Regions from separate parts of the Homo sapiens genome. Here all the other regions are reported to be linked to region 1. Evidence: microRNA targets listed by miRTarBase, many of them from high-throughput screens and not tested one by one. Region 1 holds a microRNA gene; each other region holds the end of a gene's coding sequence.

The links. The annotated mature microRNA hsa-miR-3922-3p reads UCUGGCCUUGACUUGACUCUUU and lies in region 1 at 1,385-1,406, opposite strand. An mRNA with a match to its seed (bases 2 to 7 or 8) in the 3' UTR can be bound and repressed. Matches are read on the target gene's strand: a 7mer-m8 pairs with bases 2 to 8, a 7mer-A1 pairs with bases 2 to 7 and ends in A, and an 8mer does both.
Region 2: miRTarBase lists ZNF865 as a target of hsa-miR-3922-3p. The part of its 3' UTR that is shown has no 7-base or 8-base seed match.
Region 3: the mRNA of LSM3 is a reported target of hsa-miR-3922-3p. Seed matches in the 3' UTR shown: 7mer-A1 at 705-711.
Region 4: miRTarBase lists HAUS5 as a target of hsa-miR-3922-3p. Seed matches in the 3' UTR shown: 7mer-A1 at 1,713-1,719.

Annotation. Positions count from the first base shown.
Region 1 is chr12:104,589,997-104,593,099 of GRCh38, reverse strand. MIR3922 (microRNA 3922) reads right to left here and starts at 1,467; the gene lies at 1,384-1,467. All of the region lies in intron 1 of CHST11 (carbohydrate sulfotransferase 11), which reads right to left.
Region 2 is chr19:55,616,235-55,619,337 of GRCh38, reverse strand. It overlaps ZNF865 (zinc finger protein 865), which reads right to left. Exons shown (of 2, transcript NM_001195605.2): 2 at 2,069-3,103. The coding sequence ends at 2,540. Among named protein-coding and RNA genes, the nearest start is that of ZNF784, 6.8 kb to the left of the region's middle.
Region 3 is chr3:14,197,873-14,200,975 of GRCh38, forward strand. LSM3 (LSM3 homolog, U6 small nuclear RNA and mRNA degradation associated) reads left to right here. Exons shown (of 4, transcript NM_014463.3): 4 at 164-3,103. The coding sequence ends at 244. Among named protein-coding and RNA genes, the nearest start is that of LSM3, 21 kb to the left of the region's middle.
Region 4 is chr19:35,622,598-35,625,700 of GRCh38, forward strand. HAUS5 (HAUS augmin like complex subunit 5) reads left to right here. Exons shown (of 19, transcript NM_015302.2): 18 at 4-136; 19 at 279-2,758. The coding sequence ends at 396. Among named protein-coding and RNA genes, the nearest start is that of RBM42, 4.9 kb to the right of the region's middle.

The sequences.
Region 1 (3,103 bases):
AAGAATTACGTGAATGTGCTTGGTATAGCTTGGGAAAAGATGCAGCTTCATCCAAGAGCCGTGAGATTTACTGACATGGAAGCCTTCCAGTGGGGACTCTAATACTCAGCTTTGAAGAATATAGTGTATACATTAAAATATTTACCGGCCAGGAGAAGAACTGGGTCACCAAATGGAGTCCCCCAAACCAATGGCCCCAGCAGCCAACCCATTCCCTCTTTTAGAGAATTCTGGCCCATCTGCAGAAACATGCCCAGACAGCATGCCTACTTCCGAAAGTATAAGATCCCTGTCCAAGTACAAATCAGTTGTCAACCTGACAGGTTAGTGCACCATCAGGCACATCTAAGACAAAAAGGGCCCTTTAGAGACCACCTAGTCCAATGACTTTCACAGAAGGAAAGAGAATGAATCTACGTGGTTAGGGAAAGTATCCTCAAAACTGATTCTGACTGAGCAAGAGAAATGGCAGGACGCAAAGTGCTATAATCTGGATGTTTGTGTCCCCACTAAAATTCATGTTAAAATATTAACCCCCAAGATAATCATTTTAGAGGGTGGGGACTTTGGAAGGTGATTTGGTCATGGGGGTAGAGCCCTCTTAAATGGAATTAGTGCCCTTATAAAAGACGTCCCAAAAAAGACCACTTACCCCCTCCACCATGTGAGGACATAGCAAGAAGGGACTGTCTATGAACCAGAAAGCAGGGCCTCACCAGACACCAAATCTGCCAATGCTTTGGTCTTGGACTTCCCAGCCTCCAGAACTGTGAGGAATAAATTTCTGTTGTGTATAAGCCACCCAGTTTATGGTATTTTGTTGTAGCACCCTGAACAGATTAAGACACAAACCTCAAACATAATCCTCCTGGCCAGTGGGGTATGCTGCCCACCCACTGAGAGCATGAGAGACGGGAAGGGAGAAGAGAGAAAGGGAGAGTAAGGGAGAGAAGGGGAAGGGAGGAGAGGAGATGGGAGGGGAGAGGAGGGGAGAAGAGGGGAGGGGAGGGGAGGAGGTGCCAGGTATTAAAAGATTAAACCACCTCATCCCTAACCCCATTTTGCAGGTAAAGAAATGGACGTGCAGGATAGAAGGTGATCTGTCCAAGGACACACTGCTGGCTATAGGCCGAGTTGCAGCTAAAATGAAGATCTCCTGATTCCTGGCCTCATCCCTTTCTCTTTTTGCATGTGATTTACATACAAATATATATAGAAAACCGAGACAAGTTTTATTTTAAAAGTACTATCCTTACTATGTGTGACAAACTAACATTTTCTATTGTTCTTTTATGAACTACTAGTCACAACTCATTAAATCCATTTTACAACACACCCGTGGGTCATGGTGCATGCTTTGAAAACGTCTGACTCAGATATCTGGAAAGAGTCAAGTCAAGGCCAGAAGTCCCACAGGTGTGCTTTCCAGCCCTGCTGTGGGACCTCTGGCCTTGACTTGACTCTTCCTTTAAGTTCAATTTGAGGGTGCTTATGAATGGAATATGTTAAACATTGATAAAGAGAACTCATGGCTTCCACAGCTAAAATTTCCCTCCCACAATGTTCACCATCACAGTGGATGCCACCATCATGCCCCTAGCTGTGACCAAACAGTGAGGAATTTTCTTAAATTCCCTTTTCTGTCTGCTATGCCCCACCCATCAGCATGTCTCTGTCCTCACCGCCCTGGTACAAGCCATCATCGCCTTCCCCTTGGGCTATGACAAAAACCTCTTAACTGGTATCCCTGCTGCCACCCTGGCCTCCCTACTCTATTCTCTACCAGCGGCCAGAATAATCTTCTAGAAACGTAAATCAGATCATAACAGCCTTCCTGCTCCAAAGACCTGCCACCATCTTAGAACAAAATCCAAAGTCTTTCCACGGCCCAGAGGCCCCCCATGATATAGCCCCGCCTGCCTCTGCCCCTCCTCCACCATACTGGTCATCTTGCTCTTTCTCCAAAAAACCAAGCATGAGCCTCAGGGCCTTTGCACTCACTGCTCTGTCAGCCTGGAGTCCCTCTCCCAACACCAACAACTGTTCTCTTCTTTACTCTGCCCTCTGACCGCATCATCAGGTCCCCAGAGAGAGCTTCCCTGGACACACTGTCTCCCATGGCCTCACTTCCTCTCTCTCCTGTTCCTCCCATTCTTTGCTATATTCTTTTTTTTTTTTAAGACAGGGTCTCGTTCTCTCACCCAGGCTGGAGTAAAGTGGTGCGATATTGGCTCACTGCAACCCCCACCTCCCATGTTCGAGCAATTCTTGTGCCTCAGCCTCCCAAGTAGCTGGGATTACAGGCGTGTGCCACCATGTCCAGCTAATTTTTGGCATTTTTAAGTACACAGGGTTTCACCATGTTGGCCAGGCTGGTCTTGAACTCCTGGCTTCAAGTGATCTGCCCGCCTCAGTCTCCCAAAGTGCTGGGATTACAGGCATGAGCCACTGCGCCCCGCCTGCCATATGCTTCTTCAAGGCATTGATTCTCTCCTGTCTTTTTATCTTAAATGCTTTATTGGCTGTTGTCTGTTGCCACCACGAGACCCTAAGTTTCATGAGCAAAAGGACTTGGACTGTCTTGTCTATCACAATATCCTCGGTTCCTAAAAGGGGCCTAAATTCAGGGCTGAATGAATAAATGAATGAATGGAAGTGCCTTTCCCAAAAGACAGGAAACTAAACCGTTTTGAAATACAGTCACCCCAGTCCAAGGTCTTCTAAACTTTCCTGATAAGAGTCATCCGAGGTACTTATTTAAAAAACATATATTCCCAGCCCTTCTGAATCAGATTCTCCTACAAAGGGGCCTGGGAAGCTTCAAGCTTGATGAGCACCCCAGGGGATTTGTATCTTGGAAGAGTCTGGGGATGCTGGATCAGCTAGACATGAGGAACAGGTGCGCACATAGACAGCGCACGTGCAGGCCATCTGGAGAAGAGGAGGGGGAGAAACTGTGCCAGATGGGGCCAACGAGGCCAGGGGCCTGGGTGTAGGTACTTACAAGGGTCATGCGGCACCTAATAGCCAAGGGACGGGCCAGCTAGGGTGAGGCATCTTCATTTATTTATTTATTTATTTATTTAATTTTGAGACAGAGTCT
Region 2 (3,103 bases), not on the chromosome of region 1:
AACCCAACCTCCAGCCATACTAATCTGTCTTAAATGCTCCAGAATAGCAGGGTTTAGTTCAACACACTAAACTCTCCGCCTGGAAATCTTTGCCACTTCTTTTTTTTTTTTTTTTTCTTATTTATTTATTTTTTTGAGACAGAGCCTTGCTCTGTCGCCCAGGATGGAGTGCAGTGGCATGATCTCGGCTCACTGCAAGCTCCGCCTTCTGGGTTCATGCCATTCTCCTGCCTCAGCCTCCCGTGTAGCTGGGACTACAGGCGCCTGCCACCTGCTCCCACCACCACACCCGGCTGATTTTTTGTATTTTTAGTAGAGACAGGGTTTCACCGTGTTAGCCAGGATGGTCTGGAGCTCCTGACCTCGTGATCCACCTGCCTCGGCCTCCCAAAGTGCTAGGATTACAGGCATGAGCCACCGTGCCCGGCCTCTTTGCCACTTCTTTACCTGGAAAACTCCAGTTGGTTTATGTCATCGTTCAGGGATCACCTTCTCCCCAAGAAGCTTTTCTAGCCCCCCTTCCACTCTGACAGGTGACTCCTCTGTGCTCCCTCAAGCCCTAGTGATACTTCCAAGTCCCTTACACTGTGAGGCTCCATTTCCATGTTACTGCTGAACCCTGAACCCTGGGGGCACTGGCACAACGTCTGTCTCATGCTGGGTCTTCAGCATTAGAACATGGAGCCACACAGGGTAGCTGCTCTCCCATGGGTCACACAGGACTCACCCAAGCAGCGCTCTTACCTAGTTTCATCTTCAAGTTTCTTTTTTTCCTTTTTTTTTTTTTTTTTTTTTTTTGAGATGGAATCTCGCTCTTGTCGCCTAGGCCGGAGTGCAGTGGCGCAATCTCAGCTCACTGCAACCTCCACCTCCTGGGTTCAAGTGATTCTCCTGCCTCAGCCTCCCGAGTAGCTGGGATTACAGGCACCTGCCATCACGCCCAGCTAATTTTTGTACTTTTAGTAGAAAGGATGGTTCACCATGTTGGCCAGACTGGTCTCGAACTCCTGACCTCAGGTGATCTGCTCGCCTTGGGCTCCCAAAGTACTGGGATTACAGGCATGAGCCACTGCACCTGGCCTCATCTTCAAGTTTCTGTACTGAAGTACTCTGGGACTGAAGTCCAAATTATTTATTTGTTGAGATGGAGTCTCACTCTGTCACCCAGGCTGGATGCAGTGGTGCGATCTCAGCTCACTGCAATCTCTGCCTCCTGAGTTCAAGTGATTCTCCTGCCTCAGCCTCCTGAGTAGCTGGGATTACAGATGCCCACCACCATGTCCAGCTAAGTTTTGTATTCTTAGTAGAGATGGGGTTTCACCACTTTGGCCAGGCTGGTCTCAAACGCCTGACCTCAAGTGATCTGCCCGCCTCGGCCTCCCAAAGTGCTGGGATTACAGGCGTGAACCACCATGCCTGGCCTGGAGTCCAAATTCTGTGGATTTTTGAGATGTCCCTGGAGCACCTTTGTTCTTCAGGACCCCAGGCCCTTCTTCTAACAAATGAGATAACTAAACACACATTGCCAGGCATACATCTTGCTGTTCCCAGAGCCAACATGAGAGCTGTGAACGGGCTTTTGAATCTCCCAATCATTACCCTGGAGGACAAGTGCTAAGAGGGAGCTGTATCATGACCATCAGTCTGCACATGGTTGTGAGGCAGCCACGGCAGCCGGATGGGAGTTCTCTTTTGTGTTACTTGAGGCCAAGGGGCACGTCCAATTCATCTGTTTCCCCAGTGCCCAGCTCAGGGCCTGGCAGGCAGGAGGTCTCCGGAAGTGGTGGTGGAGTGAACAAAGGCTGAAAGCATCCGGAAGGGGAAGAGTCGGGGCATGTTAAGTCAGTTCCTGAGAGCAGACACTTACCTGTCTTGTCCATCTCCATTTGCCCAGCTCAGACTAACGCTGGGAATACAGCAAATCCTCAGTAAGTCCCTGTTGAATGAGAGTGAGTGAGAGACAGAGGCGCCCGGCATCAAAACTGCAGAGGAAACAAGTTTTAACTTTGTGCTTTGCCACCATGTGATCCCCACTCTCCCTGGGTGGGATGCAAGGATGGACTCCAGCGGCCCTCATGGTAAGATTTATTATTCTCCGCTCTGTACAAGCCGCGTCTGCCACCCCGCCCCCCACCCCCCCACCCCAAAAAGCACCCAGCACTCCCTTGTGCCCTCCCAACTCTGCTCATACTCCACTGTCCAGCCAGATTCCAAAGGAGGGGGAGGGGCGGTTCAGACCCATCTCCGCCAAAACTTACTGGGGGCAGAGTGCTGCTGGGGCGGGGGCTGATGCGGGTCACAAACGAGGGTTGGACGGAGGATAGGGTTCAGTGTCTGATGGGATGAGGGGAGGGCAGAGAGGTCGAGGATGGGAGTGATTCAGTCTTGAGCCTGTCGGGCGTGCGCCCTGAAGGTCGCCAGTCCGTGTGAAGTTCTGAAGGATGGGGCAACAGCGAGGAGGGGGGAAGAGTCTGATCAGTCCTGGGAGGTGGGAGTCCAGAAGGGGGCTTTTGATGGGAGTGGGATGGGAACCCCTCGGTCAGGCATCCTTCCCGGCCAAGGTGCCCGCCCCTGCTCCAGGCCCCCCGAGGTTCTCGGCCTTGTGCGCCAGGCGGTGTTTCTTGAGGCCGTAGGTGTTGGCGAAGCCCTCGCCGCAGGAGGAGCAGCGGAAGGGCCGGCCGCCCTGGTGGGCAGCCAGGTGCTTACGGAAGTAGCCGGGATCCTTGAAGGCCTTGAGGCAGGCGGGGCAGCGGAGCTCGGGCCGCGGCGGCTCATGGGCGCGCTGGTGGCGCAGCACGGAGCTCAGGTAGAAGAAGCCCTTGCCGCAGTGCTCACAGCGGTAGGCGCGCTCGCCCAGGTGCAGCCGCTGGTGCTCCAGCAGGTTGGAGCGGTAGCGGAAGGTCTTGCCACAGGCGCTGCAGCGCTGGGGCCGGGCCACAGCGTGCAGCCGCCGGTGCTCTGCCAGGCTGGACGACTGCGCGAAGCGCTTGGCGCACACGCCGCACTTGAAGGCCCGCTCGCCAGTGTGCACCACGCGGTGCTGCCGCAGGTACCAGGAGCGCAGGAAGCCTCGGCCGCACACGCCACATCGGTACGGCCGCTG
Region 3 (3,103 bases), not on the chromosome of region 1:
AGCAGTTGATGGATTGGTTCTTGGTGCTACCAAGGGAAGTGATCAGGTTTTTTAATCCAATTTTTTTGTGTCATGATGAATCCATTTTTTAACATTTCTGTCACAAACAATAAGCAGTAATACACAGTTGTACAAATATGTTCTGTTTTTTTTTCTCTTCTAGTCAACGAAACGGAATATTCCAATGCTCTTTGTCCGGGGAGATGGCGTTGTCCTGGTTGCCCCTCCACTGAGAGTTGGCTGAAACAAAGAATTTGTCCTGTATGGAAAACGGGAGACTTTGTACAGTGGCCTCTCTAAAAGTACAAAACATTCATAAGAGAAACCTGCATACATTTTGATATTAAGAAATAATTCCGGGGATTCTTCCACTCCTGAAATGAGTTGATTTGCAGATAACTCACAACTTCTTAAGCTAAATGGTATTTTCATTTTTCTCAAGCTCTCCAATAAATATGACCACCAAGATGCAGAACTCTTTCAGGACTTCTTTTGCTCCATTATTCTCACAGATACTTACTGATTTTTCTTTTCTTTAAATTGGTGTTTCCTTGTAGATTTTTTTAAGTGCGGTCTTCTGTCTTGTGAATTATTTAAAGTAAGCATGTCTTACCTTCACTTAGCACACATTTGCAGTGCACCTACTGTGTTTGAGGCACCAGGTTTGAGTGCTGGGAACCAGAGTTTTATCAAAATGCTTTCTGGGCCAGACATGGTGGCTCATGCCTGTAATCCCAGCACTTTGGGAGGCCAAGGTGGGTGGATCACCTGAGGTCAGGCGTTTGAGACCAGCCTGGCCAACATGGTGAAACCCTTTCTCTACTGAAAATATAAAAATTAGCCAGGCGTGGTGGCGCATACTTGTAATCCCAGCTACTCAGGAGGCTGAGGCAGTAGACGCTTGAACCCAGGAGGCAGAGGTTGCAGTGAGCCAAGATCACACCATTGCACTTCAACCTGGTCAACAGAGCGAGACTCCGTGTCAAAAAAAAAAAAAAAAAAGTTTTCTGCCCTCAAGTCTTCTGGGGAGGCAGATGTTTAAACCAACAATTGCAGGCAGTAAGATTAGTGCTGATAGAATCATGCACATGCAGGATGCCATAGGAGCATGGGGAAGAGCACCCAAATATGGGAGAAAGGGGCAGAGGGACATTGTAAACATCAACCCTGCAGTAGAAGACAGAGCAAAGCATGATTTCTCTTTTCTCTGGCCTGATTTAATTCTAAGGTCAGACGTTCAGCTTGATCATAACCTGTTTATAATTATGACTCAGACCATTTTTCCACTCTTGGATCATTGGCCATTAATGATGAGGGGTCTCAAACAACATGTCTCAGTGACACAGTAAAGCAGAAATTGGCTGAAAGCAAAGCTGTTTTTATTTCTAGCTTCAGTCAGCACATAATGCTTAAAACCTAAAGAGGAAAGTAAAAGCGTGTTACAATCTCTCAAACTTTATCAAGACAGGGCTTAGAACCTGACATCCTCCGCTATGGTCATTCCATTTTGAAATGTAGAAAATCCAACTTGTGGATGGTTTGTCTGTAAATGAGCTGAATGTGTGTGCGTGTTCATTATCAAGCACGATATGCTCACAAATGCACAGTACTTTAAGCCTTGTGCAAGAAAGATGCTTTCAGTAAACATATTTAAAAGGTTTTATTTTCCTTACTAATGGTACATGCCCCTGCAAGTTCATGGAGAAGAGAAAAACAAGTGTGGGTGAGCTGATGGAGGCTTCATCTTAGGTGAGGAGGCAGGAGAGACACCCTCCCTTCACTTGTGCCATCCCCACGCTTTGTCCTTAAGCTGTAGTGGTCCCAGGAGATAACCTGTTTACAGCAGCCCATTCAGTATTGAAAAATGAACTCCCTCCTGCAGAATGTTAGAAGAAACAACCTCAAAGACCTCAGGCCGCCTGTGGTCATTAGTATGTGGCAGCAAGATTGAACCTGCCTGCCTCCTACCTGTGTGAGCCTGTGGTGTGGGTGTGGTACCAAGGCCCTGGCTCTGGGCAGTCTGTTGGCTCCTGGTGTTCACTAAGGCGTGGGGTGACAGGCCATCTGGCCTCGCTCTGCCAGTCTGCAGTTCTCCCCAGCACTGCATTCATTTTTAGTGGTTTCTGATAGTCACACTGAATTCCTGGACACTTTCTTCTCTTCATTCTTAGTTATCTTTCTCCTTTTTCTCCTGGAACTGATAGTTTACACTAAAACTTTTGGCTGTGAGGACTTGATTATACACATTTCTAAAACCCATGAACCTTAATATCTGACACTGTTACTCTCATATGCACACACAACTAAAACATACCAACCTACTTCATTTCCTAGCTGCTAAGATACAAGGGGAGGGACAATAAAAGGTTAACTGCAGAATAGCCACCTATGTGTCAGGAAATGGAGGGAGGGGAGGCAATGTGTGAGTCCTTTTGGAGCTGGGACTCAATCCACAACAGAGACAGCTCAAGCAGGGCCCTGCCATGGTCCACACTGAGGTTTCCTCTGCAGTGGTGCTGTCCACTGAGGGGTTATGGTGTGAGGGCCCCTGGGAGCCACGCCTTGGACTTCTGAGTCTGCAGAGCACTCGGCTCCAGCCAGCTGGATGGCAGGTGGTCAGTGGAGCTGGTGACTGGTGGTTTCTGCAATGAGGTGTCAGATTAGCCTAAGGGAAGCCTCTTCAGCAAGTATCATGCCTGGATCCCGGTCTTGGTTGTTTTATGAGAGGCCGATATGAATTGCCATTGCCTCCCACAAAGAAAAATGGACAAAATATGGGACCACATCTTTGAGATGAAATGTGCCCAAAATGAAAAGTAACTTGAGTATCCCAAGTTAAACTTAATCATTAGCTGCAAATGGACGATTTTCAAATTTCAAATAGTGATTTTTGAAGATTTGCCCAAACTAGAGTACTATCCCTCTTCACACTAAGAGGCAGAAAGTGGTTTCACACACCCTTTTATTTAATCAGCTAAAGTGGGTGCGGTGACACACACCTGTAAACTCAACCACTAAGGAGACTGAGGCGGGAGGATTACTTGAGCCCAGGAGTTCGAGATCAGCCTGAGCAACATAACAAGACCCTGTCTCAAATAATACT
Region 4 (3,103 bases), not on the chromosome of region 1:
CAGAGCTGCTGCAGATCCAGGCATCCCAGGAAAAACAGCAGAAAGAGAACCTGGGGCAGGCTCTGAAGAGGCTGGAGAAGCTACTGAAACAGGCACTGGAGCGAATCCCTGAGCTGCAGGGGATCGTGGGGGACTGGTGAGAGGGGAACGTGCCGCGGATGGGAAACAGAAAAGTCAGGACTCAAGCTGGGGGCCTGATGAGAAGGAGCAGGCCATGGTTTTGCAGGGAGGGTCTGGAGGGTCAGTCCTTTCCTCGTTGACGCCATGCCATTCCCCAGGTGGGAGCAGCCAGGCCAGGCCGCCCTCTCTGAGGAGCTCTGCCAGGGCCTGTCCCTGCCCCAGTGGCGGCTGCGCTGGGTTCAGGCCCAGGGGGCCCTGCAGAAGCTGTGCAGCTGAAGAGAGGGTTCAAACGGAAGCCGAGAACTTGACACTGTTCACCCCAACACCTCACCTCCCCCAGGACATTTGGAAGAAAGCAGCGCCAGGATTCCTCGGCAGTCGTCCCCACCCGCACCTGCAGTCCCCTCATGTGCTGTTCTGCTGCCCCACTCAGCTCCTGGACCCTGTCCTTTCATCCCGCTAAAGCACCCCCTAAAACCCCTTCATCACTTTCATTCTCAGCAAAAAGTAATTGAGCACCTCCTCTAGGCGCTGGGGAGTCCACACTGAACAAAAGAAACAGAAAACCCTGTCTTCCAGCAGTTGAGTTCTAGGGCAGGGAGACAGAGTTTACAAGATAAGGAAAATATATATGTAGTATGCTGCAAGTTAACTGCTGTGTGGGAAATCCAGCAGGGGGTGGGATGTGTGATTTGAATTGAGGGCCACACTGCCCAGGTCGTGCTCCGTCAAGGGGTGAGCAGGAGCAACAGGGGTGGCTGAGTAAGGGCTTGCAGCTGGAGGCAACAGCACATGCAAAGGCCCTGAGCCAGGATGTGCTGCAATAAGGGCCACTGAGGGGGACAGTGTAGGTTGGGGGTGAGGAATGTATTAAAAGATGAGATTGCCTTCTAGTTTGTATAGTTTCTTTTTTTACATGTAAATCAGCCATTTGGAATTTATCCTAGCACATGGATCCAATTTTGTCTTATTTTACATATATCCTAGTAGCACTTACTGAAATTCCCAGTCAGAGTGGCAGTTGCCTCTGAGGGAAGGTGGGTGGCAGGGATCAACTGAGGAGGAGACACAGAAATGTCCTAGCTGATGGGAATGTGCTGTGTCAAGAGCAGCGGCGGTGACGCAGGTGTAGAGATTTGTCAGAGCTCATGTAGTTGTAGTCTTAAGGCCTGTGCATTTCACTGCGTGGGTTACTCAATTTATAAAGCAAAGCCCTTACACTTTTGAGATGCCACCTTTTTATGCACTAAATTTCCATGTTTAATTGGGTTATATCTGGCTTCTCTCCAGACCTGCTTTGTATTTAACTCTCCATGTGTCATTCCTACAGTAGCTTAATAGAAAGGCTTGTGACACATTGTCATATCTGTTCTTGTTTTCTTTTGTTTTTTTTTTTTTTTTTTTTGAGATGCAGTCTCATTCTGTTGCCCAAGTTGGAGTGCAGTGGCATGATCTCAGCTCACTGCAACCTCCGCCTCCCAGGTTCAAGCCATTCTCATGCCTCAGCTTCCCCAGTAGCTAGGATTACAGGTACGCACCACCACGCCCAGCTCATTTTTGTACTTTTAGTAGGGACGGGGTTTCATCATGTTGGCCAGACTGGTCTCGAACTCCTGACCTCAAGTGATCTGCCTGCCTCGGCCTCCCAAAGTGCTGGGATTACAGGCATGAGCCACCGCGCCTGACCACATTGCCATATCTGAAATGGCTGGATTCTCTTAGGTGCTTTTCTTTTTCTTTCTTTCTTTCTTTTTTTGAGACAGAATCTGGCTGTTTCCCAGGCTGAAGTGCAGTGGCATGAACTCAGCTCACTGCAACCTCTGCCTCCTGGATTCAAACAATTCTCATGTCTCAGCCTCCTGAATAGCTGGGATTACAGGCACCCACCACCATATCTGGCTAATATTTGTATTTTTTGTAGAGTCGGAGCTTTACCATGTTGGTCAGGCTGCTCTCCAACTCCTGGCCTCAAGTGATTCTATCGCCTCTGCCTCCCAAATCTTCACCTGCTGGGATTAGTTTCCCCTGTCTCAGTAAATTTTTTTTCCCAAACTAAGTGAACATTAGATTTAATTTGGCTGGCCCCAGAAGAAAAACATGCACAGATGGTAGTTTTACTGGTGTTGCAGTAAGTTTTCAAATTTGGAAGTTTGGCAGCTTTATGATCTTGAACCTTGCTGTCCATCTCTCACACAACTCCTCTCTTGGCCTCCAGAGTCCCTTTACTCTCCCAGCTTTCCTCCTGCCCCTGGCTGCTGTTTCCCAGCCTTTCCACATTGGCTTTCCCATGTAGTCCTTAGTGTGTCTGCTCCTCCTCTCTCTCCTCATCACAGTTCCCAGCCCCCACCTTCAACTGAACTCAACAAAATCTTCAACTTCATACAGTAGTCACATTGTTAGTAATAACACTGGCATTTTTATTTTGATAAAATAGACCGTTTAAATTTTTGAGATTCTACCTTATATTTTTTGAATTATATACTAAAGCAAATAAGTAGTGATGTAATGTCATTGGGGACCAAGATTTTTAGTGTAAATGAAAAAAGATAACAAATATAAACTCAAGTAAACACCCTGTAGTCTTTCACATGAATTGGAAATATCAGAATAAAGTCATGATTTTTCTCTTTCTAAAAAATATGTATTTCCCTAGTTAAGTCCCCTGAAAAGGTCTAAATATAATGACACCCCAGTAACACTGAGCAGCACTAGTATACAGACTGTGGTCTCTATAAGTGCCATTTCTGACTAAGAACTAGGGACTTTTGTGAAAACAGCTGATTCCAGGTCTGGGGCAAGAAATGTGCAAAATGTGTCCAGGATATTTTGTGCCAGGAAGCAAAGAGTCCTCCAAGACTACTGTGGCCAAGTCAAAGGAACTCAGGAGCCAGTCTGAAGGGCTGTCACTCACCAAAGGTGGGACATGTTGAGCAGCAAAAAGAACCACAGTGGTTTGAAGCACATCAAATATGCCTGAATGTGT